Linked DNA regions of Homo sapiens: regions 2, 3 and 4 are each linked to region 1. The links come from fine-mapping of genetic effects on gene expression. A gene starts in region 1. Each other region holds a variant in brackets. All regions are shown on one strand. Distances are between the middles of the regions. Region 1 holds the start of ZHX2 (zinc fingers and homeoboxes 2). Region 2 has its middle 59 kb from the start of DERL1. Region 3 overlaps ZHX2 (zinc fingers and homeoboxes 2). Region 4 overlaps ZHX2 (zinc fingers and homeoboxes 2).

The links. PIP is the estimated chance that this variant, and not a neighbour inherited with it, causes the effect.
Region 2: its variant is the best candidate, but not a certain one, in a credible set for the expression of ZHX2 in monocytes (CEDAR, PIP 0.64).
Region 3: its variant is the best candidate, but not a certain one, in a credible set for the expression of ZHX2 in whole blood (INTERVAL, PIP 0.54).
Region 4: its variant is the best candidate, but not a certain one, in a credible set for the expression of ZHX2 in prefrontal cortex (ROSMAP, PIP 0.75).

What each region holds. Positions count from the first base shown.
Region 1 is chr8:122,778,028-122,785,599 of GRCh38, forward strand. ZHX2 (zinc fingers and homeoboxes 2) reads left to right here and starts at 3,628. Exons shown (of 4, transcript NM_014943.5): 1 at 3,628-3,919. It overlaps ZHX2-AS1 (ZHX2 antisense RNA 2), which reads right to left and starts at 3,577. Exons shown (of 2, transcript XR_007061082.1): 1 at 2,146-3,577; 2 at 1-170. RefSeq lists enhancers at 2,071-2,572, 2,573-3,072, 4,240-4,289, 4,945-5,479 and silencers at 4,340-4,409, 4,630-4,759, 5,540-5,619.
Region 2 is chr8:122,979,936-122,987,507 of GRCh38, forward strand. No RefSeq gene overlaps it. Among named protein-coding and RNA genes, the nearest start is that of DERL1, 59 kb to the right of the region's middle. The variant GTTTGT/G (reference allele first, on the strand shown) is at 3,066.
Region 3 is chr8:122,957,785-122,965,356 of GRCh38, forward strand. The region is part of intron 3 of ZHX2 (zinc fingers and homeoboxes 2); the gene reads left to right. Among named protein-coding and RNA genes, the nearest start is that of DERL1, 81 kb to the right of the region's middle. The variant G/A (reference allele first, on the strand shown) is at 4,368.
Region 4 is chr8:122,827,770-122,835,341 of GRCh38, forward strand. All of the region lies in intron 1 of ZHX2 (zinc fingers and homeoboxes 2), which reads left to right. Among named protein-coding and RNA genes, the nearest start is that of ZHX2, 50 kb to the left of the region's middle. The variant G/A (reference allele first, on the strand shown) is at 4,421.

The sequences.
Region 1 (7,572 bases):
AGGTGAGACTAGAGTCAAGTGGGAGATCGATTAGGCTGGAGCATCCAAGATGGCTAAAGTCTGTGTATTAATCAGGATCTCAGGTGGAGCTATTGTCCCTATCACCTTTGTTTTCACTCCATGTGGCCTCTCCATGAAACTTCGGCTTCTCACAGCATGGCAGCAGGACCCTAAAAGGAAGGAAACAGAAACTGCCAGTCTCTTAAGACTTGGATTTAGATGTCTCAGAATATCACTTTCATTGCATCCAAAGCAATCACAGGACCAGTCCAGATTCCAAGGGAGGGGAAGTAAACTCCACCTCTTAATGGTGATGTATTTTTCAAAAAAGGAAGGAAAGGATTGAAAAAAGCCATCTTAGAAGACTACCACACCTCCTAAAGCTTTCACTTTTTGCAAAAGGTTTTTATTCTTGAAATGTGTGTATATTTCAACTAAGCAAATATGTACCTAGGAATTTATCCTAAGGAAGTAATCGCAGATGATTCAAAAGATCTGACACAAGGTTGTTCATTGGAATAAAATTGAAACTACCCAATGCCCAACAACAGGGGACCAATTAAGTCCAAAGGTGGTTGAGGACAGTGTTTTAAAAGTCTATTCTCTGGGAAGCAGGTAAAATTAAGCTTAAATTCCAACTCCATTACTTAGCATCTGTGTGATGTCGAGCAAGGTACAGTACTTAAGCTCTTTAAGTCTCAGTTTCTATATCGGTAAAATAAAGACAAAATATAGATTTTTGTGATGATTCAATGAGATGATACATATAAAAGGCTCAGCACATGGTAAATGATCAATAATTGTGAACTGCTATTATTATTTATGATAGTCCTTAGTGCTATCATATTAGTGCAAATCTTTCCCATTCTCTCCATTTCCAGGCACACAATACTTCCATGGATCTTTACAGTTAACTTTGTGTTTAGTTCTGACCAATGAGTTGTAAGTGAAAGTGGCATACGTTACTTCCTGGCTGAACATTTACTTGTCCAACATTATTGATTCTGAAGCTCCTAAATACTGTCAGATAACGGTCTGTCTACTCCATGAGTATACTTCAAGCAAACAGGGATCATACCACATAAAGCAAAAGCCACCTTTGTCTTATTCCTCATTGTTTTCTCTTTATATGGTGCAAGTTCAGTCCATGCTAAACTCTGAACAATTTTAAAACACTGCAACACATCAGAAGCCCCTCATCCTTGCTAGTGTCCATGAGATCCAAGTGCTCTGAAGATATGAGAACCCAGCAGACTGTTTAGAGGGTTACCTGGCTTCCCTCCCACCTGGCCCATTCCACCCTACATACAATCTGTCACCCAGCCAGAAGCAGGTGGCAGTGAGGTGGCAGCAAGGGAAACTTGGCTTATAGAAAACCCTCCTAAGTGATTGATCATCCAGAGGAGGTGCAGCCTCAAAATAGGAATAGCTTCGTTAAGGTTTGGGTAATTTCCATGGAAACAGACAGAACTAGACTTATTTTAAAGGGGGGGGGGGCAGGGCGTGGAATAGCCTGCAAGGGGCATAATAAGGTAAGCGATGTAAAAATGTTGAAGTTGGTGTGGCCGGCGGGACGGGACAAGGCGGGGGAATGGGGGGAGGGTCCCATATTTTTTTCTTTTCTTTTTACAATTTTGGTTCACCCTGGGTGAGGCAGAGGTTGGGAGGAGATCAGGCAGCGGTAAATTCTGATGTTGATGGCAAGTAAATTAGGTTCTTAGCCGGTACCAAATGAGGCTGAGAAAGATGTGGCCCAAGCTGGATTACAGTCATCAAGAAGTTAACAGAATCCTGTAAGAGCCCCTCCAGGTCGCCTTTCAGGTCCGCGAGCATCACGCAAGAGACTCCTTCCCAGGATAGAATCTTGTTTTATGGGCGGTTAAAATGCAAACAAACAGACCCTACATCAGCAATAACCGAACAAACAGGTGCAGGCCATTAAGAAAGTTTTGCATATGAGCTGTTTTAATTTTTGTTGCAAAGGATTTCTGGGGAGTCAAGGGGTATGTCAGAAATTAGAGCCCTAGGGCAGAACTTACAAAAACCTTTTAGCTACTTCCTTCTCCCCGGCCTCGGAAATGAAAAAGCCAAAAGGTCACCCAGCGCATCCGCCACCCAGTCAGCCCCAAGGCCAGCCGTCCTCACCCCAGTCCGGGTCCTCGCCATTGGCCTCTCCGCTGCACACGGCCACCTGTTGATGCCCTCGCGCCCACAGCCGAGTTGCAAACGGCCGCTAGAGTTCGTTCTAATTCCCCAGAGCAGAGCTGCCCGGGAAGCCCCGACGCGACGCGCCTGCTAATCTGCAGGGCGGGCGGGGACTCCGCAGAGCCTCCCAGCCCCAGGCTCCCTTTGTTTTCTCGCTGCGCTCGAAGCTTCTAAACTAGCCCCCAGACCGCATCCCCTCGTCCCCGCCCGGGAGCTGCCCAAGAGTCCACAGGCCAGCCCAGGGGGAAACAAGGTACATCTGGGCAGGAATGCGCGGCGCAGACAGGTTGCCGCCTGAGATCCCGAAGTGTACCCAGATCCCGAATTCCTTAGAGCTCTTTAGCCGAGCACTGTGGCAGGAGCGCGGCGCCCGGAATACAAGTTCATGGTTCCGAGCCGGCGGGCGAAGGGCAGCGCGATCCCCCGCCACCTTTGCTCTAAGGCGCCTAGGGGAACCTGGGGGCTGCCGCGGTGAGAGCTCCGCTCCCACTGGGAACATTGGAGTCCCAGTTGCGAAAGCGACCCGCCTAGCTTCCGAGGGACTTCTCTGCGAGCACCGCAGGCGTGTGCATTTCTTCGAATCTGAGAATTCCAGCGAACTCGGGCTCTACCAGAGTTTAAGTCGGCCCCTGGGGCGTCTGTTTGTTTATTGGCTCTTAAGGGAAAAAAGTTTGAAGATCTTTAACCAGCCTCAGACCTGGCGCGGGCGGAAATCCCGGAATCTCCCCAAGCAAAAGTGATATAACTTCAAGTCGTTATATAAGTGGGGGGCTCCTTCTTCCCCTCCCTACGCCGAGCCTTCTCATTATCATTCCGGGAGTAAAATGTGTCTCGCTCAACATAGTTTTAAAATCGTTATTATTATTTTCCTGAGCCTGAAGCCGGGCCAAGGCGCAGGCAGCGCCCAGGGTGCGTGGTGGCCCCACCCGCGCACAGTCCCACGCAAAGGGTCCCGGGGCCCGGGTACCGCCAGAGCCGGGCCTGCAAGCGCGCCCTTCGGTCCCACGGTCCGCCACTCCACGTGGTCAAGATCAACAGTTTGTTGAGCTCATCAGTGACACCTTGAACTTTTCATAAAGAAAATGGGTATTGCACGGAGACGGTTTGGCCGCGGCCGCCGCGCGGGGTCGTGCTTAATATTCAATGATCTCGCTCGCGCCTCCCCCTCCTCTTCTCGCAGAAATTCCACCGAGTCCGTTACTGGGCTCAGACTTTTAAGTTAATTTACTGCCCCCCTACCTTGGCCAGTAACCAGCGCCTTTAGGGCTAGCCTCCCCCCCAGCTCCTGCCTGAAAAATGACATTTCGCCGGTGTCTCCGGAGGGGGCTGAATTTCACTTTGTAACTTTCTGCGGAACCCGAGCCCGGGTGGCAGCTCGGGTGGTGGTATCGTATGCAAATACGCATGCTGACGTTACAGATCATGTGGGTTTTGGCGTAGATTCCCCACTGATCGAGGCATTTTTTTTCCCTTTTTTTTTCCTTTTTTTTTTTCTTTTAAAAATTTTGGCCATCGTTCTCCGTACGGGGGCTTTTTCTGTCTGTCTGTCTGGCTGGCAGGCTGGCTTTCCCCCTCTTTCCCACGGAGCCCGAGCCGGGCGCCCGGTGGGGAGTGGGGAGTGGGTGGGGGGAGCCAGCAGAGTTCCATTTTGGAACGCCCGTGCCGCGTCTCCGCGTTCCCAGCCCGGGTCCCCGCGTTCACAGCCCCAGCGCAGGTAAGAAACTTCGCCTCGGCGCGGAGCCCCCCAGCCGGCGCCGCCGGCCCCAAACCCCGCACGCCGGGCGCCGGCCACTCCAGCCCAACTTTCCCACCGCCGCCGTCGCCGCCGCGGCTCCCGAAAATGTGTTGTTAATGGGACTTGGCCGGGTTTGTGATTGGAAGGGGGGTACGGAAGGGGGGGGGTGTGCAGGCTCTTTTTGCGGGTGGGAGGAAATGAGCGGATACAGAGAGGGAAGAAGATTTTTTTTTTAAGAGTTTTGATTACAAGTTTGGATAAATGGGAGCCAGAGCGAGGAGGAGGAGGAGGAGGAGGAAAAACATGTCTACGTTTCCCTATGTCGACATAAGCCACAAAAAAATATGGCGTCCGCTTTCGACAGGGCGTTACGTAGACCCGACTGTTTTTATTTATTTATTTCGTGGCCGTCTCCCTCCCTTCTTGGCCAAACTGCGGCGCTTTGTGCAAACGGGGCAGGTCCCGCGGGGACTCCACCGGGACGTGGCCCCGTCTCCGCGCGTTTTGGCAGGCGGGGGGCTGCGTGTGTCTGCTCCCCTCCCTCCCCCTCTCCCCTCGCTCCCCTCTCCCGGTGACGATTCGCCGTAATGTGGTGGCAGGAAGCATGACGCCGTGGGCCGAGGCTGCCTCTGCTCTCGTCGCTCCCGGCGGCTGCAGGCAGCGGGCGCGCAGCGCGGGCGGCAGCCGAGCTACCTGGCGGGGGCAGGGCCGGAGCGCGGCGCTGTCCTCACCCCCGCTCAGGTGCAGGGGGAGTCCGCGCGGGGCGGGGGGCCGAGGGCGGCCGCGGGACCCCCGGCCCTGCTGTCCGCTGCCAGCTGGCCGGAGCCTCTGCCAGCCCGAGCCCACGTTCGCCCCCCTGAACGGCAGCTGGCGCTTTTCGTCTGCCCCACAAGAGGTTAATCTTTGTTGGTGTTGCAGCTTCTTTGTGGCTTCCCCAGGACTTGTATCCTCGGCTTTGCAAACTTGCCCTTTTCCCAGCCGCTTTGCAGGAGGCTGCGGAGACGAAGATGAGCGGAAAGTTGGAAACCAGCAGGCATCACAGGACGGTCCCTTTGGCCTCGTAGCTGTGCTGAGCCTGGGAGGCGGAGGAGGAGGTGGAGGCGGCGGCGGAGGAGGGTTTGTCAGGCTGGGGAGAAAACTTGATGAGGAAGCCAAATTGTGATTTGTTCAGGTTTCCACCTGATTGATAGTCTTCAAAGCCAGTAGGTCTCTACCTTCAACTGTTTCGCGGTGGCCTTTTGTTTGTCTGGGGCGTGGAGAAGGAGAGAAGTCGATGAATAAGGACTTTCCCTCGACCCCTCCCCTTTTAAAGAGTGGTTGCTCAGCTTGGCCCCCTGGGACACTGCCTTTTAGGCCCTGGAGTTCTTCCCCAACCTGCTCTCTGATCACTTTCTCTCTGTTAAGTTACCAGATCTCCAGGTCTCAGGCAGGCCCCGATGAGCAGAATGGAGTTAGAGGAGAGGATTCCTTCCCCCAGCACTTCTTGAATTGCCCAGACCTCCCACAATTACCCTCTTAAAACCACACACACACACACTTACTCACTCTCTCCTTTATATATGGCAGAAATTAATGCCTGTAGAAGTGAAGGGGGTGAGGTTCTGAGAGCTCTTCAAGATTTGAGTCAAAAGGTGATTTTCTGTTTATGAGGGCAGCGAGTTTAAGCAGTTCACTCCCAGGGCAGTAATGTCAAAAAGCGTTTGGATGACGACCAAGTGGAATAAATATCTTGTAAAATGGCATGTTTAATAGTAAAAATAGATTAATGGAGCTGTCAAGTGGTTGAATGGGACTACCATAAAGGTTTAAGTTTAAAGGGAAAGTTATGTAAAGCTGTATACACAGCTTCTTTTAAGGCCAGAAGGGAAAAAATCTACAAGTAAGGCTGAAATGTGTCACTGACAATAATTGGACTGGTGATGTGTGGAAATATCATCGCTGTTTAAATGCTCTGCTCCGCGATTGTTCTCTTGCGCACTTGTACCTTTCCTTCTAGCCAGGTTTGCTGTCAGCTAAAGGATGCACCTGAAGATTGTGCTTCAGGGGAAAATGCAAGAAACCAAGATTCTGGGGCACATCAGCTATCTCAACTAATGTCCATTTGAAGGGGGAAAACACCACTGTTTGTTGGCACTGAAGAAAGGGTATTCCTGTGATGTAAGTGCAGTGTATCTTGACATGCTGAAAGGTGGCCCCACCCGGCGTTTCTCATCCACATCAGGACCATGTGATTTGGTGGGATGCTGTACACTTATCAAAAATAATCATGGCAATGTTTGATAACAGTTTCTAACACTGTTATGGTGTGTGAGGCACAATGCTGTATATTTTACGTGCTTTATCATTTAATTCTCACCACAATCCTGTGAGCTAAGTACTACTATTATCCTCCGTTTATGGTTGAGGAAACAGAGGCTCCAAGAGGTGAAGAAACTTGCCTGAGCGACACAGCAAAAAGCAAATCCAGGCCTAACTTCATAGCCTTAACCAGTCCATTGTAGCAGCATTCAGATACACGACGTCACAGTTAGAATAAAAAAGTAAAGGGTCAGGTCCAGCAGAAAAGAGGGAACAGTAGCCACTGTCCTGAGGTCCGAACTTCAGAATTTACCTGGATTTTATTCCTTTATTCATTTATTTAGCAACTGTGTGTTGATTTATTTATTCATTCAGCAACTATAATGTTCATTATACTAATAAGAACCCATAGCCATTAAGCATTTTTGTATGCCAGGCACTATCCCAAGTGCTTATGACTAGACTATTTTGTCTTCATGACAACTCTGATGTAAGTACTCTCATTCTCTCCTTTTTCTAGATGAGGAGGCACAAGCCCAGGTAAGTTAGCTAACTTGCCCAAGTCCAAACAGCTAGTAAGCGGAGTGGCAGCCCCCAGAACACACACACTCTGCTGTTGCAATGCAGAGCGCATAACCAGATGTATGGAAATGCTGGGGAGACAGAGCCCCCCTGGCAGAAACGCAAAGCACTGCATGCTCCAGACATTATGGAGATGCTGGTGGGATACACACCCCCTGCCCTCTAGGAGTTTGAGCCGACTGCGGGGAAGCACTCATTAAACCAAATCAAGCAGGCTTAGATAAGTGCTATGATTGAGAAAACTAACCACTGTGGAAGCACAAGGAAAGGCATGATTCTTCTGCTCTGAGGGGATCACAGAGGATCTCCTAGAGGTGGGAGCAGCTGAACTGCCCCATGAATGAAGAGGAACAATGTCCAGAGGTGTAGCCAATATCACTGCATTCGGCTGCTAGCAGCAGACTCTTGACTACCAGTGACTTAACCAGATAGGGACTTTTTTGTGTCAGACAACAACGGGGTGAGGGGTAAAGGGAGATGATGCCTCAGCTGTACCATTGGGAACCCAGACTACTTCTTTCTACACTGCCATGCTTAGAGTGGAGGCCTTTGGCCTTAGGTTTATCATCTCATGGTAGGAAAGTGGCTGCTACGTCTCTAGGCCTCAGGTTTGCATTCCAAGAAAGAGAAAAAAGGATGAATGAGTCTCAAAGAGCTTTTACCCAGTACAGCTTCACTGCTATATCTGGGAAGGGGCACCCCTCTCAGGGACTTCTGTCTTTAGCTCATTGACCAGAGCTGTGCCACATGGT
Region 2 (7,572 bases), 200 kb after region 1:
GGGGGAATAGAGGGGCAGGATTCTTGGTGAGGTGGAAGAGAGTGGTGGGGTGGAGCGACCATCTGCTGCTGCTTCTGTCTGCCCTATACCTCTTGAACTCCTTCTCTTCCTTGAGGATGTACTCATATCTCCCTCCACTCATCTCATTCTTGGGGCTTCCCATCATGGTGACCCACTCTCCGATCTACAGCAGTGACCCACGGCACTCTAGTACCCTATTCAGGGACAGGTACAGTACCACGCATAAGACCCAAACAGCACCAAGTCAGATACTGGGAGGAAGAGCTTCCTTTCCCATTTAGATGGTAAGTGCAATCATGTTAGCTTGGAACCACCAGTGGCCAAAGCCCCTGCCAGGGAGAGGAAGCCAGTCCTTAAGTAGAGAGAATGGGGCCACAAACTCAAGAGGCAAGGGAGCAATAAAGGATGGAGCAAGGGATGATGATGGTGGCGGTGATGACGGCAGTGGTGATGACAATGTTGATAATCATGTGAATCCCTGGAGCCTGCCATTCCTAAGGCCAACTCCTTGTCTTTCCAGTTTCATAAAAACCAACATATTTTCCTTTTTAGCTTAAGCTTCAAATCTTTTGAGTTGGGTTTCTGTCACCAGAAACTCAAAGAGTTCTGGTGGGTTAATGAAATTATGAGATAAAAATGAAAGGAAAGACAGCAATTGTAAATAGCCATGTTGGCTAGTGGCTTCAGTATTGGATGGTGCGGTTCTTAGTCCTTGCCATTCAAATGTGCTCCTGAATCAGCAGCATAGGTATCACCGGGAGCTTGTTAGAAATGCAGTATCTTTGGCCCCTATGCCAGACCTGTTGAATCAGATTCTGTAATTTGACAGGATCCCCAGATGATTCGTATGTTCAGTAAAGTTGAAGAAACCCAGCTCTGAAGACACTAAATGGCTCCTCCCCAACCTCCTCCAGCACACTAAGGGATGGGTGGCAAGTCTAATAATACATCACTGGCCTGTCTGCAGAGGGTAGACCCTAGGGCCTGGGAACAGGGAGGCAGAGGAAGAACAGGGCAGAAAGAGCATGGTCCACCAGCTGATGACACACTTGTCCTTCTAGGCCACCTGGTGCACAGCCACTTCCAACCAACAGTGCTTGGAAAGGATAGCTCTCACTGACCTGTCACAATGCAACCCAGAGAGAACCAGGAAAGATGTCAGCTCCCTCCTTCTAATCGCTGAAAGCTCCTGTCTCCAACATCTCACAGCTGGACATACGTATAAAGCACAGCAGAAAAATTATCATTGCCCTGGGCAGGGGAAGGGGGTTGATCGATAAAAATGAATAAAAAACACTTCATGAGCACATCCCATGACATGCTGCAAGTTGAGTATCCTGTAGAGTGTAGGAGGCATCCTGATCTTGACTTTGAGAAACTTAAAATCAGAGGGAGACCAAAATGTTCACCAGTAATTCTGAAACCTTCATCCATAACAAGCCCCCAAAGCACTACAGACTGCCTTAATCTGGATCCTTGCAGGAAAGAAATTGAACACTTACAATGGGTAAACTGGGAGTGGTTTATTAAAAAGGATTTTTATAAAGGTGTGAACAGGGTTTAGAAAAACTAACAAGGGAAGATGCAGAAAGCCTGGCTTGAAGGGACAAGGGATGGACAAAAGATGCCAAATGCACACTAAGCTTGCCGTCATACCCCACTCCACACCCACAGCAGATATTAATGATCAATCAAACTACCTTCGCCTGCTGGACTTGGTCAGGTCTTCATGATACTTAACACAATGCTCCACCACAAATCTATTAACCTTGGAACATGAGATGAAATATGTGATGGATGCCATTGGTTGCCCAACTAATATCCATCCCCCTATCCTTCCTTGCCAACAGAACCAAGATATTCCTCAGGCAGTGTCTTCATCTACTTGTGCTGCTATAAAGGAATAGTTGAGGCTGGGTAATTTATAAAGAAAAGAGGTTTATTTGGCTCATGGTTCTGTAGACTGTACAAGAAACGTGGTGCTACCATTTGCTTGGCTTCTGGTGGGGGTCTCAGGTTGCTTCCACTCATGGTAAAAAGTGAAGGGGAGCTGACTGTGCAGAGATCACATGAAGAGAGAGGAAGTAAAGTGGGGAGGGATGTCAGCTCTTTAACCAGCTCTCAGAGGAACTAATAGAGCCAGAACTCACCACAGAGATAGCACCAAGCCATTAATGGCGAGTCCACCTCCATGACCAAAACATCTCCCATTAGGCCCCACCTCCAACATTAGGGATCACATTTAAACATGAGATTTGGAGGGGTCAAACAAACCAAACTATAGCAGACAGTAGCATACCCATGCCCAGGTGAGAAACTCAGTTTCCCAGCTTCCCTTTCAGCTAGGTGTAGTTAGTGAGACATCACCAGAAGGCCACTGAATAGTTGGTGCTACTCTCCTTCTTTACTTTTTCTTGTCTTGTATGCATTTTGTGATCTCGAGACTGAGTTCTTTTTGACTTTAGAGTCCATGACCAAGTGCTGCAGCTTCCTGTTTCCAAACTTCTTGATATGTGAGAAAAGTAAACCCCTATTTGTTTAACCCATCACTCAGTGAATTTGTTTAACACATGCAATCAGATGCACTCATAATTAACACAAATCTATCTGCCATCCCTGGGCTAGATAGATATAAATCCTTTCTCTCATACATGCATTCATTTATCCCTATACTAACTGCCATGGTAAGATAAGTCAGGCATATACATTGCCTACACAAGGAAATTTGATCTATGTTTGAGGGATGAGTTTGACAAGTGGATAAATCAGAGGAAGGCACAAGAAGTATAAATAAGGGTATATACAATTTCAGAATTTTAAATAATAGGAATCCAACAAGCAGTCTATAATGTGTAACAAAAGAAGAAACCATCAATTTTGAGCAACGAGTTTTGGAAAACAATCAAGTCACCCTGACTCAAATCTGGTAAGAAAAAAACAGAAGTGCTTATCTACTTGGAAAGAACCTGAAAAATAGCCAAAGAATTATGCTATGAGTTTTTATGATGGGAAATCAGAAAGTGATTTGAGATTTCTCTTTTTTT[GTTTGT/G]TTTGTTTTGTTTTGTTTTGTTTTGTTTTGAGATGGAGTCTCGCTCTGTTGCCCAGTGGCATGATCTCGGCTCACTGCAACCTCCACCTCCCAGGTTCAAGCGATTCTCCTGTCTCAGCCTCCTGAGTAGCTGGGACTATAGACACACACCACCACGCCTGGCTAATTTTTTTTGTATTTTTAGTAGAGACAGGGTTTCACCATGTTGGCCAGGCTGGTCTCAAACTCCTGACCTCAAGTGATCCGCCCTCCTCGACCTCCCAAAGTGCTGGGATTACAGGCGTGAGCCACCGTGTTCGGCCTGAGATTTCTCAAAATAAGTAAAATATCATTTAAAAAAAAAGATGTAAAGTGAAAAAACATACATTTGAGGTTCTTTAACTTGGACTTTGCTTCCCATAGCTAAGTTTGTGTCACAAACCTTGGAATCGGATTCTTCTCTCCAAATTTATTCTCCAGCTCCTCCTTACTCAACCTCTCCTTCTCACTGGTCTGCTCATTTATCAACGAACATCCCTTAGGTTGATGCAGTTTCTCTTCTTAGAATGCTCATGCCTTCCCCTTTTCTTGCCTAAATTCTACCTAATTCTTCCAGTTCTACCAGACCAAATAAAGGTGAATACGGGGTGACAGAGAAACTAGATTTAAGAAAGACATATATATTCCAACTGGCTCTCAGGGAACTCTGTTCCTCTGAATTCCTGGAGCAATTACCACTGATAGGATTTATTTAGTTCTAATCATATATGGGTTTAGTTGTTTAATCTTCTCTCTCTGTGAGGATCCTCCTGGTCAGAAGGTGTGCTGAACATCAGTTTTCATCTCTCCAGCGTCCCTTCCCTCTCTCTTTTAGTAGCAATACACATACCCCTCCCCATTGGAGAAGTCTTCTAAGGCCCTGTTCTTTCCCTGTTTCAACTAAACACTGCTGGTGTGGCAATTATGATTGTCTGTGTGTCTGTCCACCATATGAGCCAAGGACCAGGTCTTTGTCTTTGTACGCTAACATTTAAAGCAAGCATACATTCAATCGTGAGTTGTATACATACATCTGTACCAGCAATACTAGGAGTTTAATTAGACTAGGGAATGATAGTAAGGTATTTGAAAAAAAAAATAACTTGTGGGAAAATACCCATGATAGGATAAAATAGATTAATGTTCATAAACTTCCTCCCTTCACCTCACCTGCCCAAGAGAACCTCTCACTGACAGCCCGATTCCCCTTTCTCCCCCATCTCACCAACATAGCACTGCCTGGATTTTTGGAGTGCAGAGTCAGAGTAAGCAAAGAAGGACAGCACCAGAGAGGTGGGATGAGAAGTAGAAGGACACTGAGAAAAAGGTTAATCAATCTACCTAATAAAAAATGGAGAGAGAAAAGAGAGGATGTTCAGGAAGTAGAAGTCACTGGGGCTGCTGGCAAAAGAAATAATTCTTCAAAGTTTTGGTTAATAAAGTCCTTCAGAGTGCGGGATATGAGAAAACCCGGCAAGAATCCAAAGAGGATGAAGACATGCCATGGATTAAACATGGAAGCCCGTTGAATGTCCTTTCAGAAAGATGAGGGAAAAAAATAAATTCTCTTTTAATGAAGTTTTGGCTTATTTGAACTGTGCCTCTATAACTGCTTCTAGGACTGGATCACGGGGGTCACAGCTTCAATAGTGCTACACAAGAAAGTCATCGCAGTACACGTGAAATGCAACTGGAAAACCAGCTGAAAACATATCCTGCTATCAATAGGATACACCTCATCACCCATTTCCATGGCCCATAATCATCCCCACTTTTGCCCATACTGTCCTCTGTCTGGTAGAAATTCTTCTGAACCCTGGAGTAGTCAGAAACACAGTTAAACAGTAGAGGACATGTGACTTTCCATCATCCCATGAACTATCCATGGTAAGGCCACCCCAGGATTCATGGGCTCTGAATTCTGGCCTCTGTTTTACCATTCATGGGTTCCATGACTCTGGACAAATCAGTCACTTCCCCTCATTGAGTCTCAGTTTCCTCATTTGAAAAATGAGAGGGTTTAGACCAGATGACCATGAACAGTTCGTTCTGACTCCGAGACTCTCCTGTGTAGGAGCCTGGACCAACACACCTCTGCAAAGTATCCAGGCTTCAGTTTCCTCCCTTTATCCTCAACCAAAGCCTTTGGGGGAGTTTTTAGGACAGCAGGGAGTTAAGTAAGCTTCTGGGCAATAGCACTAAATCTTTTGAGCAAAGATTGTCAGCAAGCCCCCCTGGGGAACTTTGAAGAAGCATCTGTGTCCATAAACAGTGTTTAATTAAAAAGCAATGTACAACAGAATGGAAAACTGAAAAGTAGGCTGTGGAGGAATATTTCTCCAAACCCAGAACATACCACTCTGTATCTCTCCTCAGACAAGCTACATCCACAATGCCATCTGTTTCAACACACACACACACACACACACACACACACACACACACACACACGCTTTGTTTGGGGTCATTTAAGTTTCCACCTGCTCTGGAAAGACAGCTGCCCTTGCTCTGTGCCTGGACAGTCTTCTAGGCTCCCAGGACGCCATCTCCACCCAACAGAGGTGGGTGAACCTTCCAGGGTCAACATGAGAACCAGGCTGAGAGCTGGGTTGGCCTTAGCAGGATACATTTCTCTCCAAGGGATTTTTAAATCCATGTGTGTTCCAGAGGAAGTTTTACATGGTGCTTCTGCCCCCCTTGTGTGCCAGATCATCAGCATATTGTGTAAGAATGGCTAGGGCTCCAGGAAGGACGCACTCCCATAGAACTTTAAAACTTTGATCCCCTGCCTTGGGAAACTGCATAATTTTCCACATCAGACGAACAAAGTTTGGACTTCAGCACTCTTCAAGACTGGATTCAGGAATCTGCCCAAAGACACATATCTAGTAAGTGTCAGAGCCAGGATTGAAACTGATTGGTTTCAGATTTCTCTGAAACCAAAGCCCAGACATTTAACCACAATATTCTAGCCACTCATCAAGTGGTTGTCATGGCTCAGAACTAATTACAACATTGGTAACAGCACAGGGGAGCACATACGTTCAAAACGGGCCGACATATTGGCATATGTGCCCCGGGTGTTATATCCCCTGAGGATTTCTTCAAACACTTCCAGTCCAGGAGAGTGGATAGTCTTCCTTTGTAGGAGTCTTTCTTTCATGTTTGTGGTCATGGAAGGCTGAGTGGGAATGGGAGGCATGGGCTGGAGACAGCCTTTCAAGGAGGCTTGAAGAGGAATAAAAACAGACTTTAAACAACGCGGGTATCAAATGACTTTAAAGATCAACTCCGGTTTACTCCTAAGAATGAAGGACCAGGAGACTAAAGGAATTTGAAATCCACATCATGACCTGTAAAACTTTGCTTTATGTGATTGCTTAATTCAACTGCCTCCCTAAACCAATTTTTCAATTTCTTCTCCTCATCACTTGAAGAAAGTTGAAAAAGGTGATGGAATGCCCAGTCTCTGTCTCTGGCAGAATTCTCACACACTGTTTTATAGTTATTCATCCATGTGACATAAGGTAAAGATCTTAACTTATTTATATTTATATCTTCAACATCTAACACATCATAAGGCTCTTGATAAATATTAGAGGTGGGAAAGAAGGAAATTTTGACTGGAAGGATATAAATAAAACAAGGATTTATATAACTCACATAAAGTTAGCAACCAAGAGTAGTACATAAATTTAAGATTTTTCTTATATAAAAACCAAGAGTGATATGTGGTCTTGAATGGATCCTGGTTTGAACAGACCAATTGTAATTGTAAAAGACATTTAGAGGCCGGATACAGTGGCTCACGCCTGTAAACCCAGCACTCTGAGAGGCCAAGGCAGGCAGGAAGCCTAAGGTCAGGAGTTCAAGACCAGCCTGGCCAACATGGTGAATCCTCATCTCTACTAAAAATACAAAAATTTAGCCAGGCATGGTGGCACGCGCCTGTAGTCCCAGTTATTCAGAAGGCTGACGCAGGAGAATAGCTTGAACCTAGGAAGTGGAGGTCGCAGTGAGCTGAGATCGCACCACTGCACTTCAGCCTGGGCGACAGAGAGAGACTGCATCTCAAAAAACAAAAACAAAAAAAAAGACAGTTGGACATTTGGAGGTCAATGGAGAAATTTGAATACAGATGAATCTTAGATAATATTAGGAAATTATTATTAACTATTAGGTGTGTTGATGGCACTGGAGTTGTGTAGGAAAATGTCCTCATTGATCCATAATGAAGGGATGAAATGTCATGAGAAATATAAAATTTACCTTTAAATATTTAAAATATTTCAGAAAAAAATGATGGAAGATTAGTAATGGTTAAATCTAGGTAATGAGTATACAGGTGTTTCTTACAGTATTCTCTTTGCCATTCTGTACACCTGAAAATTTTCATAATACAAAATTCCAATAAAGCAGTTTGCTAACATAAACACAGTGCAATTATCAAATTCAGGAAATTATCGTTGCTGCAATTATCTTAT
Region 3 (7,572 bases), 180 kb after region 1:
GTATTGAGAAAGGGGCTGCCTTCTGCACTAGGGGTGGCATTGAAAGTTCTCCCACATCCTGGACAGAGGCACTCCTTAAAGGAATCTTTCAATTTAAAGGGAAAAAAAATCTCTCCAAATTGCTTCACAGTTTTCATGAACCAAACACATGAGTCTCTTGAATTCATAAATATTCAGTGATGTCCCTATTTAAATACTTATTTATTTAGGAACCTGCAGTTCAGTTCAGTTATGACACATAATAATCCTGAAATAATTCATGGTTTTGACTTTATAAAAAGTGTTATGTGATGCACAAGAGGGTGAAGGGGGAGGAACTTGAGCAAGCAGCTGAGAGCTGGCTCTAGGACTAGATTTCCTCTGTAGGCGTTAAGCATCTCCTGCAACCAAATCTCTCTAACCTCTGCAAAGCTTAGGACAGCATTTGACTCAGTCCAGGCTCACCTCGGCCCTGAGGTTAGACACAAAGATAAGGAATACTTCCCAGCCTTTGAATTGTGTTGTCTTGATTCAGTCCCTGTGTCTGAACAATGTTTGAGCCATTCCATTGAGGGACCTGTCCTAGGAAAAGGCTGAAAATTAGACTTATTTTTTCAGAAAAATGAGTCAACGTACTTGAGCAAGACATTGTCAGACATCAGCCTTGATGTTTGGTCAAATGGAATATTCCGTTACTATTGCTAGTGAGGGTTCCCATTAATTGACACCCACTGTGTGCTCAGCTGCCTTCTAAGCACGTCTACTAAGTCACTTCAACTTCATGCCCACCCTGTGAGGTAGGTACAGCCTTGTCCCCATTTTATAGAGGGCAAAACTGAGGGCCAGAGAAAATGAGTAACTTGCCTTATGTTCCTCAGCCAACAGCTGGAAGACCTTGGAGGCCACCTCTCAACTGTCAGGCCAGTGCCTGACCCCAGCCACTATGGCCCTGCCCTCTCCAACAGTGGCACCACCAGCATAGCCCAGAACAAACAGAGTGTGGTCATTTCTTGATTTTGTGTGGGAGTGGAAACTAATCCACAATGTATTCATTCAGCAAGAACTTTAGAGAGCCCTCTTTGTGCTAGGCCCTGTGCTAGTCTGTGTAGATTTGCCAGAATGTCCAAGACACAGCCCCTACCTAATCTCAGTTAATAAAGGTGAGAAATGGACATAGAAACACCTGTTTCATGAGAGTAGTGCACACAGAAACCAGAGGAGCTAGGAGGGGGAGAGGTGGCTTTTCCAACATGTTGTCTGATTCAGAACCTTCCCACCAACCTACATGTGCAAGCCACCTTCCCATTTATTTTAAACAAAGAATTCTGAGGCTCAGGAACCTGCCAGAGTTCACTCAGCCAGTGTCTAAAATTGACTCCAAAGCTCCAGCCACCACCTTCGCTGCCTCCTGATTTCTGTCAACAGTTTCCAACTCCTGATGATTAGGGATGACTTTGGAGAAGAGGAAAAAATTGTGAAATGTCAGAAAGGTATTTTCCATGGTTCGGCTTGGTTAAAATTTTTAAGGCTGCTAAGCATTGCATTCTGGTTACAATTTAAGATCCAGAAGAGGTATGCCCTCACACTCTGTTCAGATTAGCTGTCCAAATGCAGATATTTGAATGAATGAATGAACGAACGAATTAATTAACTAATTAATTAATGAGTGAATGAATGAAAATATTGTTGTCGACTGTTTCCCTCTCTCCTGTACCAGACCCTTACCGGCAGGGACCATATATCATTAATCTCTGAATCCCTAGTTTAGATTCAGAGCAGATGCTGAATAACGGTTTATTGAACGAACCAGAGAATTTTAAAAGATAGTTGGGATCTGGTATTTCAATCCTTTTGCTTGTCCTCATTTTTTTCCCATCACTCATTAGCTCCAATGGTTGACAGCAGCGAGAGGAGAGGGATTGGATACAGTTTGCTTCCTGTGTATGAAAAGCTCAAGAGAAAGGCCTGTTGGAGAATCTGTCACCAGATATTTACTGGTGATGCTTCTCAGGGACTGCCCGTTAGTCTGACTTCCCTCATGCCTAACAGGGAGTTAACTGATACCACTTCCACTTACTTAATTCTGGAGCTTCTCACCCTAGGAATTCTCACTGTGCTTTGGGTGACTTGTGGAGGCTTAGCCACCATGAAATCCAGCCCCCTCATTTTCAGAGGAAGGATGTAGGTCCCAGGGAGATGAAGTCACTAGCCCAGAGACATTCCTAATAAGTGATTTGGTTCATTCATCCATCAAGTATTTGTGGAATGTCTGCAGTGTGCCGGGCTCTGGAAGGCAGTGTGCCCAGCATGTCCCTGCCCTCATGGAGCCCTTGGTCTAATGGGAAATGAAGTTTTAACCAATCTTTAATCAAACAAAAATGAAAGTTGCTACACTGACATGTTCTTTGGTGCCGTTAGAGTATAGAATATGGGAATTTGAGGGTTTAAATAGCAGATTTAAGGTTTAGGGGACACTCCCTAAAGAGGTAATGGGGCCAGGCACAGTGGCTCATACCTGTAATCCCAGCACTTTGGGAGGCTGAGTCACACAGATCACCTGAGGTCAGGACTTCGCACAAACCTGGCCAACATGGTGAAACCCTGTCTCTACTACAAATACAAAAATTAGCTTGGTATAGTGGTGCATGCCTGTAGTCCCTGCCACTTGTGGGGCTGAGGCAGGAGAATCGCTTGAACCCAGGAGGTGGAGGTTACAGTGAGCCGAGATCGCACAACAGCACTCCAACTTGGGGCACAGAGCAAGACTCCATCTCAAAAATAATAATAAATAAGTAAATAAGAAGAAGAAGTAATGGATGGATTGAAAACCAAAGGGTTAGACCAACATGCAGGAGCATGCTGGGCAGAGAGGAGGGGAAGAATATTCCAGACAGAAGAAACAACATACTCAAGGGGAACTGAAAGGTGGCCATGGTGGGCATGACTTGCCTGGGTTCACACTTCACAGAAGTGCAGAGGTTAAAAGCCAGAGCGTTAGGTGGACTCACATATAATCAAAATTTCCCTTGAAATTCCTCTGTCTCACCAGTAAAGGAGATGACATGGTTCATTGTCCATAACCCTAGAGAAAGTTTGATGCCCTCTGAGCTACTCAAGGAAGGAGCAAAAGGAAAACCAACTTGCAAATGTCCTGGGCATTCAGACCCATCTGCCCTAGTGGAAAATGGAGGCTGGATGGTGGAAAATTCTAGAGCACCCACATGCCTATACATTTTACTTTATTCTTTCTATAACCTTAATACTTACTGTATTAGTCAGCTAAGGCTGCCAGAACAGAATGTCACAGGCTGGGTCACTTAAACAACAGAAATTTATTTTCTCACAGTTCTGGAGACTAGATGTTCAAGCTCAGGACACCAGCAGGGTTAGTTTCTGGTGAGGCCTCTCTTCGTAGCTTGCCAACACCCACCTTCTCACTGTGTCCTCACATAGTCTTTGCTCTGTGTGTTCACATGGCTGGTGTCTCTTCTTTTTCTTGTAAGGACACCAGTCCTATGAGATTAGGACTTAATTACCCCACCCTTAGTTACCTCCTTAAAGGCACTATCTCCAAATACAGTCACCTTAGAGATTACGGCTTCAACATATGAATTTAGGGGGGATATAATTCTGTTCATAATGCTTACAAACAGTTGTCTGTATTTGTCAGGATTAAGTGAGATAATATAAATGAAAGCCCCTTGTATTAGGCTGTTTTCATACTGCTATAAAGAACTGCCCAAGACTAGGTAATTTATAAAGGAAAGAGGTTTAATTGACTCACAGTTCAGCATGGCTGGGGAGGCCTCAGGAAACTTACGATCATGGCGGAAGGCGAAGGGGAAGCAAGGCACCTTCTTCACAAGGTGGCAGGAAGAAGTGCTGAGGAAAGAGGGAAGAGCCCCTTATAAAACCATCAGATCTCATGAGAACTCACTCACTATCAGGAGAACAGCTTGGGGGAAACCACCCCCATGATTCAATTACCTCCACCTGGTCTCTCCCTTGACACATGGGGATTATGGGGATTACAATTCAAGATGAGATTTGGGTGGGGACACAAAGCCTAACAATATCACCCCTAGAGCAGGGTTCTAGCATTAGTACCAATAGATACTGCATCTCAACTTGCTTACTGCTCTCTATATGGAGAAGAACTTGGCCCCCTGCTTCTTGCCTTTCCAAGTTGACCTTTTCTGTTGGGGCCCCACATGTTCATGCCAGTGGGTGTTAATTGCATCTCAGGAGGGGTTGGGCTGGGGGTGTCTGGGGCTGTGACACAGGGTAGCACTGCTGAGCACTCACTGTTCCAGGCCTGCTCAGGCACTGTGCATGTGCTGACTCATCTCATTCTCACAGTCACACTCCAAACTATTTTAATAGTTTTG[G/A]GGGAACATGTGGTGTTGGGTTACATGGATAAGTTCTTTAGGTGTGATTTCTGAGCTTTCGGTGCACCTATCACCCGAGCAGTGTACACTGCACCCAATGTGTGCTCTTTTATCCCTGACCCCCCTCTCATCCTTCCCCTGAAGTCCCCAGAGTCTATTATGTCATTCTTATGCCTTTGCTTCCTCATAGCTTAGCTCCCACTTGTGAGTGAGAACATATGATGTTTGGTTTTCCATTCCTGAGTTACTTCACTTAGAATAATGGTCTCCAACTCCATCCAGGTTGCTGTGAATGCCATTATTTCATTCCTTTTTATGGCTGAGTAGTATTCCATGGTATATACATACCACATTTTCTTTATCCACTTGTTGGTTGATGGGCATCTAGGCTCGTTACATATTTTTGCAACTGTGAATTTTGCTGCTATAAACATGCGTGTGCAAGTGTCTTCTTCATATAATGACTTCTTTGTCTCTGGGTAGGTACCCAGTAGTGGGATTGCTGGATCAAATGGTAGTTCTACTTTTAGTTCTTTAAGGACTCTCCATACTGTTTTTCATAGTGGTTGTACTAGTTTACATTTCCACCAGCATTGTAAAAGTGTTCCCTTTTTATCACATCCATGCCAACATCTATTATTTTTTGGTTATTTAATTATGGCCATTCTTGCAGGAGTTAGGTAGTATTGCATTATGATTTTGATTTGCATTTCCCTGATAATGAGTGATGTTGAGCATTTTTTTCATGTTTTTTTTGGCCATTCATATATCTTCTTTTGAGAATTGTCTATTCATGTCTTTAGCCCACTTTATGCGGGATTGTTTTTTCTTGGTGATTTGTTTGAGTTCCTTGTAGATTCTGGATATTAGTCCTTTGTCAGATGCGTAGTTTGTGAATATTTTCTCCCACTCTGTGGGTTGTCTGTTTACTCTGCTGATTATTTCTTTTTCTGTGCAGAAGCTTTTTAGTTTAATTAAGTCCCATCTATTTATCTTTGTTTTTGCTGCATTTGCTTTTGGGTTCTTGGTCATGAACTCTTTGCCTAGGCCAATGTCTAGAAGAGTTTTTCTGATGTTATCTTGGAGAATTTTTATGACTTCACGTCTTAGATTTAAGTCTTTTATTCATCTTGAGTTGATTTTTGTATAAGGTGAGAGATGTGGACCCAGTTTCATTCTTCTACATGAGGCTAGCCAATTATCCCAGCACCATTTATTGAATAGGGTGTCCTTTCCCCACTTTATGTTTTTGTTTGCTTTGTCAAAGATCAATTGGCTGTAAGTATCTGGCTTTATATATATTTTCTCTATCCTGTTCCATTGGTCTATGTGCCTGTTTTTATACCAGTACTATGCTGTTTTGGTAACTATAGCCTTGTAATATAGTTTGAAGTAAGGTAATGTGATGCCCCCAGATTTGTTCTTTTTGCTTAGTCTTGCTTTTGGCTATACGGGCTCTTTTTTGGTTTCATATGACTTTTAAGATTGTTTTTTCTAGTTCTATGAAGAATGATGATGGTATTTTGGTGGGAATTGCATTGAATTTATAGATTGCTTTTGGTAGTATGGTCATTTTCACAATATTAATTCTACCCATCCATGAGCATGGGATGTGTTTCCATTTGTTTGTGTCATCTATGGTTTATTTCAGCTGTGTTTTATAATTTTCCTTGTAGAGATCTTTCACTTCTTTTGTTAGGTATATTCCTAAGTTGGGTTTTTTTTGTTGTTGTTTCTTTGTTTGTTTGTTTTTTTGCACCTGTTATAAAAATAGTTGAGTTCTTGATTTGACTCTCAGCTTGGTTGCTATTGGTGTATGGTAGTGCCACTGATTTGTGTACATTGATTTTGTATTCTGAAACACTGAATTCATTTATCAGATCTAGGAGCTTTTTGGATGAGTCTTTAGGGTTTTCTAGGTATATAATCAACATAGTCAGCAAACAGCAACAGTCTGACTTCCTTAACTTGTATGCCCTTTATTTCTTTCTCTTGTCTGATTGCTCTGGCTAGGACTTCTGGTATTGTGTTGAATAAAAGTGGGGAAAGTGGACATCTTTGTCTTGTTCCGGTTTTCAGGGGAACTACTTTCAACTTTTCCCCATTTAATGTAATGTTGGCTGTGGGTTTGTCATAGATGGCTTTTATTACCTCAAGGTGTGTCCCTTCTATGCCAATTTTGCTGAGGGTTTTAATCATATAGGGATGCTGGATTTTGTCAAATGCTTTTTCTGCATCTATTGAGATGATCATATGATTTTTGTTTTCACTTTTTTTTAATGTGGTGTATCACATTTGACTTGTGTATGTTAAACCAGCCCTGCATCCCTGGTATAAAACCCGCTTGATCATGGTGGATTATCTCTTTGGTATGCTTTTGAATTCAGTTAGCTAGTATTTTGTTAAGGATTTTTGCATCTATGTCCATCAGGGATATTGGTCTGTAGTTTTATTTTTCTTTTGTTACATCCTTTCCTGATTTTGGTATTAGGTGATACTGGCTTCGTAGAAGGATTTAGGGAGGATTCCTTTTTTATCTTTTGCAATAGTTTCAGTAGGATTGGTATCAATTCTTTTTTTTGAATGTCTGATAGAATTCAGCTGTGAATCCACCTGGTCCTGGACTTTTTTTTGTTGGCAATTTTTTTATTACTCTTTCAGTCTTGCTACTTGTTATTTGTCTGTTAAGAGTTTCTGTTTCTTCTGGGTTTAATCTAGGAAGGTTGTATATTTCCAGGATTATTTATCTCCTCTAGGTTTTCTAGTTTATGCTCATAAAGGTGTTCATAGAAACCTTGAATATCTTTTGTATTTCTATGGTATTGGTTGTAATATCTCCTATTTTGTTTCTAATTGAGTTTATTTGGATCTTCTCTCTTCTGTTTTTTTTTTTTTTGGTTAATCTCACAAGTGGTCTATCAATTTTGTTTATCTTTTCAAAGAACCAGCTTTTTGTTTCATTTATCTTTTGAGTTGTTTTTTTCTTTTAATTTCATTTGGTTCTGCTCTAATCTTTGTTATTTCTTTTCTTCTGCTGGGTTTGGGTTTGGTTTGTTCTTGTTTCTCTAGTTTCTTGAGGTGTGAGTTTAGGCTGTTTATTTGTGCTCTTAGACTTTTTGATTGTAGACACTTAATGCTATGAACTTTCCTCTTGGCACTGCTTTTGCTGTATCCCAGAGGTTTTGATCAGTTGCATCACTATTAT
Region 4 (7,572 bases), 50 kb after region 1:
ACCACAATTACATTTGCACCAACCTAATATTAAATACAGAGACAAGATGAAATAGAGAAGAGCTGGATGCAGTGGCTCATGGCTGTAAGCCCAACACTTTGGGAGGCCAAGGCAGGAGGATCCCTTTGAGCCCAGGAGTTCAAGACCAGCATGGGCAACATGGCGAGACCCTGCCTCTACAAAAAAATTTAAAAATTAGTTGGACATGTTGGTGCACAACTGTAGTCCCAGCTACTCGGGAGGCTGAGATGGGAGGATCACTTGAGCCCAGAAGGTTGAGGTTGGAGTGAGCCATGATCTCTCCACTGCACTCCAGCCTGGGCGACAGTGAGACCCTGTCTCTAAATAAATAAATAAAAGAGAAAAGCTGGCTCGCAGGAGAGACCTAAGGGCACCTAGACAGCACTGGCCAGGAGAGCAGAGGCGAGTGCAGCGTATATGGAACAAAAGCACCCCTGTGGAGTGGACAGAAGCACAGACCTAGGGCTTAGGAGAGGAATGAAACAAAAATTCCTGTTTCTTCAGGAGCTGAAGATAGAGAAAGTATCTGTACAGTGCATGTGCGTGTGTGTGTTAGTGATATGGAGGAAGAGGATCTCACTCACACACCAGGAGACTGGAGGGAGGGTGCATTCTTATGCTGGCTGAGCATAAGGGTCATTACGTGGTCACTATGTGGATAAGAGTAACAGAAGAGAAACCAAAACCCAGGAAGACAGGGAGAGCTGCGGCCCACGAATGCATCTACCAGTGTGCAGCTAAACCCATGGCAGGAGACGCTGTCCTTGTGACATACCTTGTTGACCAGAGAGCTCCTCATGCTCTGTGTAATAACTAGGCGGGGCCATGGGCTGTGGGGGATGTGCTGGCGGCAGCCCTGGTGGCCATGGGCACTGAGAAGGGACTGCTCTGAGGGAATGAGTGGTTCATTTAATCGCAGGTGTGTTCCCACGCTTCGCAGGGCTGATGGATCGTGCCTGCAAAGGGGTTCTTGGAAGGCTCATTCTAGGTTGTTCTCATTGGGAATATAAATGAAGTACAACCGGTTTGGGCTCTACCCAGGGTGTTGTAGGTTTTTATTTTATTTTATTTTATTTTACACAGAGTACCCAGGAGATGGCAGATAATAATTCATTTATTTATCCACTACAAATTGAAGAAATTGATCTTTTTTTCAGTTATTAAAACACTACATTTCACCAAAAAGAAAACATTTACTTAACTCTGAGCCATTTATTAAATAGAATATTATAGAACAATTTGAAGTTAGGTTATGAAGACTCTGTAATAGTAAGGGTAGCTGCTTGCATGGGACATTATGTAAAATGAGGACTATATGTAACATATGTGTAGTGGAATAACATTTTCTGAAGGCATACAGATATGCCCAAAGATGGACAGATCAAGCAGCTTGCCTAAAGCCACACCGCTGGTAAATGGCTGAGCCAGGATTCATCAACCTAGGAAGGATGTGTTTTCTTAATCACAGCTAAACTAAACTACCAAGGCTATCTTATGGTACATTCCAACTTCAAATCTGCAAATCCAAAATCATTTGTTCAACTCTGCAAAAGTTGCATCAAACAAGGCTTGTTAACTTTTACTGTCACAGAAGCTTCAAGAACTTATAACAATGCTTAGAGTTGGGTAATGAACTATGCTAGTTTTTTCTTTACTTTTCAAAGTTTATTTAATGTGCTTATATTCTCTTTATAATGACATGGACGTACCTACATCCATACAAATCAGGGAGAAAATGAGAATAAGAACAATATGAAAACTCTCCCACCTCATTGTAAGAGTTGGGGAAAAACATATTTCTATTTGAGCACTGTTAGGAACCACACATGAAAGATTGGTCCCACCTTCAAGTGCTGAGGAACAGGGTAGAGACCAAATACACAAGCAAGTTTCTGTGACAACAGTTGAAAAGCTATAGCTGTAAGAGTTGAGTGTTCTGAATTTTCAGAGTGCCAAAAGGATATAAAATAAATGACCCCAGCCAGAATTCATCTTGACAAGCTTTCTGCACATATAAGGTGAGTTTGGAGAGACATTTACAAGTAGCAATGGCCTTCCCTCAACTGGTGGAAGGAATGGCATAGGCAGATTGTGAAGTGGAGCCCTGTTGGTGATGAAGAAGTGGGTTTGACACTAGGGAGAGTCTGAATGTGCCACATTGAGGGACGGAAGCATGTTAAGTTTTCAATATTGTCAGAGCTATTTGAACCAGAGCAACTCCATCTTGAATGGAGGCTGGGTAAAATGAGGCTGAGACCTACTTGTAAGGTTCTTGTATCAGTTCAAACCCTGAGCGTGTGCCGACAGACAACAGGAGGCGGTGTGGAGCAACTTGCTGTTTTAATGAGAGCCTGGGTGCACACGGGCTGAGGCCTAAAATGGCGTCAGCACCAAGTGAGGACGGGGCAAAGGATTTATAGTGTCCTGTAAACAGGAAGTGTCCTAGTCTGATGTAACTGCTACGTTGTACCCAGATGGCCTGTTTCTTGATCTTCAGGGGTACGTGTCTTCCAGCTGGCCTTCTTCCTGCTTCTGCTATTTTGCTGGCGCACACTGCTGGCACAAGTAGCCTTGCACCTTGGGACTGGGCCTGAGAAGGGAGGAGTTATTCATCCCCTTAAGCTTTCAGGCCCCGGGGAGAATCTTACATTCCTGTCTATTTGGTTATAGAAAAGGGAAAAGGGACAACTTTCTTAATAACTACTTCAGGCGGGACATAGGGGGTGGTGTGGGCACGTTGGAAAAAGAAAACCTTAATTTTTAGGTATTCTTGAGAGATGGGTTGGTATTCACCATGTCGTTGTAGCAGGAGCATCGCCTGCATTGTCTGGAAATATGTCTGTGCCTGCAAGACAGTTATGTTGAGAGGACAAGGAGGTGTCGACAGGGAGAAGCATGGCCTCATCTGCTGCTTTATGAATGAAACACCGTGTCTGGATTAAGGAGGGGAGGTAATTACTGCGTGGCTCAGAGTCTGGTAAGGATGGAGGCCCTAAGACAAAAGTTTGGCCATACATGATTTTAAAGGGACTATAAAAAGAGGGTGCTTTTGGTGTTGCACAGTTTCATGAGGGCAAAAGGGAGATGTTTTGTCCACAACTGGCGGGTTTCTAGAGCCAGCTTGGTGAGTTGGGCTTTAAGGACAGGGTTAATTTTTTCAACTTTGCCTAACGATTGAGGCCTGTAGGGTGTGTGGAGAACTTACTTTATTCTTAAGGATGTAGAGTCGCCTTGGGTAATTTAGCTGATGAAGGCGGGCCCGTTACCAGAGTGGATGGATGTTAGGAGTCCAAAACAGGGAATTATATGCATAAGAGTTTGTGTGACAATATTTGCAGCTTCTGAAGTTGTCGGGAATGCTTCTACTTATCTGGAGAAAGTACAGACAAAGACTAGAAGATAGCAGAGCCGTTTATCGGGCGGCATGTGAGCGAAGTCTACCTGCCAATCTTGCCCAGGTACCTGGCCTCGGGCTTGGTGGGTAGGAAAAGGCGGCGGCCAGAGGGAGCCCTGGGATGACACTGAGTGGCAGATAGAGCAGGACTGGGTAATTTATCAAACATGGCTGGAAAGGTGAGGACAAGTGAGGCTAGGGCGGAGACGTTACAGGAGAGGTTTGTAACCAACATGGAAAGACTTGTGGAGGCTTTGGAGGTGAGGAAGGCTTTGAGAGTGAAGAAGAACGAAGCGCCCTTCTTTGACATACCATGGTCCTTGCTTTTGAAGGTTTTGGGCTCGGAAGTCCTCCTTTTCTTCTGAGGAGTAAAGCGGAGAGAACAAGGACAGGGACAGAAACTGGCCTTGCACGGGTTGTAGGGCCACTTGTTTGGCTACCTGATCTGCTAGCACATTTCCAGCCAATATAGGATTGTCTGGGGTTTGGTGGCCCCTGCAATGAATGATGGCAACTTTTTGCGGGAGCCTGGCAGCTTTAAGGAGCTTGTTGATGAGAGAGCCATTTATGGCAGGAGTGTTTTTTGCAGTTAGGATACCCCGTTCTTTCCAGATGGATGAGTGTGAGTGCACTATGTGGAACACATAATGAGAATTTGAATATATGTTGATCTGTTGTCCTGCTGCTAGAGTGAGAGCTCGAGTGAGGGCGATGAGTTCAGCTTCTTGGGAGGTGGTGCCTAGCGGGAGGAGATTGGCTTCAATAGTGTGCATGTGGGGTGGTGACACTACAGCATAGCCAGCATTCTGGTGTCCTTGATGTAGGAAGGAGCTGCCATTCAAAACCAAGTAAAGGAGGCATCTGGAAGGGGTTGGTCTGTTAGGTTTGGAAAAGGTATAAGGAAGGTTTGAACAGTGTTTACACAGAAATGTGTAGGGTCTTGGGCAGTTGCAGCTTCAGGTAAGAGCGTGGCCGGGTTTAGATGGGAGATGGTTAGACGGTGAT[G/A]TGGGGAGTTTCTACGAATAGAGCATACAGTTGGAGGAGCCGTGGGGCAGAGATGAGACTTAGTACACTGCGGTGAGCTAGCTTGTCTTTGATGTTATGGGTTGAATAAACTGTTAGTTTGGCTTGGAGAGATAGTTTTAGGCTTTCAAGGGTGAGGACAGCAGCTGCCGCCAATGCTCAGAGGCAGGCAGGCCGTCTGAGAACTGTGGCTTCAAGCTGTTTGGAGAGGTAGGCAACAACCTGGAGGGTGGGTCCCTTAGACTGGGTTAGAACACCAGTACAACTCCACGCCGTTCGTCGGTATAGAGGGAGAAAGATTTGGTGAAGTCTGAGAGAGTGAGCACGGGGGCTGAGGTGAGAGCCTTCTGGAGCAGACAGAAAGGTTGGGGAATAGGCTGTGCAGGGTTTGAAGTCTTATGGAGAGGGCCTTTAGCAGCTTAGTATAACGGTTTGGCAAGTAGAGCGAAGGAGGGAACCCAGAGCCTAAAATATCCTGCTAGTCCTAGAAAAGAGAGAATTTCTTGCTTAGTTTGCGGAGGCGGGAGGGACTGGAGGAGGGATATGCGGTCGGTTGTGAGCCCTCGGGTTTGCAGGGTAAGAGCTAGGCCTAGATAGGTGACCGAGGAGGTGCATATTTGTGCTTTCTTAGGGGAGACCTAATACTCCCGTTCTGCCAAGAAGTTTAAAAGAGATAGTATGGGCGTTGCAGTCCCTTTGAGAGGGGCTACACAGGAGCAGATCATTAACACATTGAAGGAGAGTGGACGGTTTTAGGGATAAGGTAAAAAGGTCGCAAGCAAGGGCCTGTACGAAGAGGTGGGGGCTGTCTCTGAAACCTTGAGGTAGTACACACCAGGTGAGCCGACGTGAAATGTGGGTGTCAGGATTTTCCCACATAAAGGCAAAGAGGTTTTGGGAATTCGAGTGTAAAGGAATTGTGAAAAAGGCATTGTTTAAGGTTTAGAACAGAAAAATGAGTGGTATTGGAGGGAATCGTGAAAAGTAAAGTATATGGGTTAGGAACTGCTGGACATACCGGGAGTACAGCTTGGTTAATGAGCCTGGGGTCCTGGACTAAGCATTAAGTTCCATGTGGCTTTTTAACAGGTAGAATTGGTGTGTTAAAAGGGGAGTTTGTTGGGCGGAGTAGGCGACTGGTGAGGAGGTGAGAAATGATAGGCTTTAGGCCTATGAGAGCTGCTGAGGAATGGGATACTGCTTCTGTGATAGGAACTGGGTGGGCTCTTTAACAGTAATGCGGACGGGGGTGTGGTGTTCTGTGACTGAAGGTGTGGAAGTATCCTAAACTGCGGAGTTAACTACGGGCGGCGGATAAGGAGAAGTTGCATGTTTTAAGGTGGGAGGTTGGAGGAGTAGAAGAAAGTTAGATGGCCCAGAGGAGTCTGGGTTGATGCGTTGGGTACTATGGGGAATGTGGATGTGGAGAGTAGTGTGGCGTTTTGAAAGGATGTCTCTGCCTAGGAGCGGAGTTGGGCATGAGGGCAGGACTAAGAAAGAGTGAGCGGGCCGGGCGCGGTGGCTCACGCCTGTAATCCCAGCACTGTGGGAGGCCGAGGCGGGTGGATCACGAGGTCAGGAGATCGAGACCATCCTGGCTAACACGGTGAAACCTCATCTCTACTAAAAAATACAAAAAATTAGCCGGGCGTGGTGGTGGGCGCCTGTAGTCCCAGCTACTCGGGAGGCTGAGGCAGGAGAATGGCGTGAACCCGGGAGGCGGAGCTTGCAGTGAGCTGAGATCGCGCCACTGCACTCCAGCCTGGGCGACAGAGCAAGACTCCGTCTCAAAAAAAAAAAAGAGTGAGTGAAGGAAAAGGTGTGCAGGGAGCAGAAAAGTGGAGGGCTGGCTCAGGGTTTGGAGACTTGTCCCTCAATTCCCACAACGGAGACTTGGGAGGACTGGGTGGGTCCTGAAAAATTAGGTAAAGCAGAGTAGGTTGCCCGGTATTAATTCAAAAATAACATACCGGCCCACCTGCCACCATCAGGGTTACCCTTGGCTTGGATGAAGTGATGGTAGTTGCCAGGGCGTCTGTTCCAGGGCACCCTCAGTCTTCAGCGGCAGGGCCGATGAGATCCAAGTAGGAGGTTTTGGCCGGCTCCGGAAGGGATGGGGGCGGTCCTTGCTGGGGCTGCTCATAGTCCGACTTCCAGTGGGGTCCTCCGCAGAGGGGGCACGGCCTGGTGCGCTTACCTGGGTTTGGGCATTGTCTGGACCTGTGACCTTCATTGCCGCACTTGAAACAGGCGCCAGGTGGAGGTGGATTGCTAGGAGGCTTCCGTGTGGAGCTATGGCCCCGTGGGCCTGCAGGGCCCCTGATGGCAGAGGTAAGCATTCGAAACTCTGCCTGTTTTTGCCTTTTACTTTCCTCATCACGATTGTTAAAGACTTTGAAGGCTAAATTTAGAAGGTCTCATTGTGGGGTTTGAGGGCCGTCATCAAGCTTCTGAAGCTTGTGCCGAATATCGGTGGTGGATTGGGAGATGAACCGAAGGTTTAAGATAGTGGTTCCTTCTGGGCTAGCTGGGTCTAGGTTGGTATATTTTTTAATGGCTTCAGTTAAATGAGAGAGAAAAAGGGCTGGGTTTTCATTAGGACCTTGGGTGATTTCTGAAAGTTTTTCATAGTTTACCGCTTTATGGGCACCCTTTTTGAGTCCTGCAAGGAGACACACAATTATGTGGTTTCAACGGTGGCATCCAGAGGCCCTGTCTTGATAATCCCAGTGGGGGTCCTGGTTGGGGACTGCCTCCGCACCAGTAGGCTGGGCAGGAGCTTGGTGATGAATGGTATCAGCATGTGCCTGAGCTACAGTCCAGATACGGTCTTGGTCTTCTGGGGTGAGGGTGGAAGAGAGGATAACCTAGAGGTCATGCCGGGTCAGTTCATAAGACTGGGTGAGGTACTGAAATTTTCTAATATAAGAGGTAGCATCTTCTGGAAATGAACCGAATCTTTTGTTAATTTGAGAGAGATCAGTGAGGCAGAAGGAAACATGAACTCTAACAATACCTTCATTTTCTACTACTTTCTGAAGGGGGTATTCTAGCACCGGCGCTGAAGTAAGGGCGGGGCATGGGCCAAAGATGGCGCCCGAGCGAGTAAGGGCAGGAGAGAAGGAAGAAGCTGG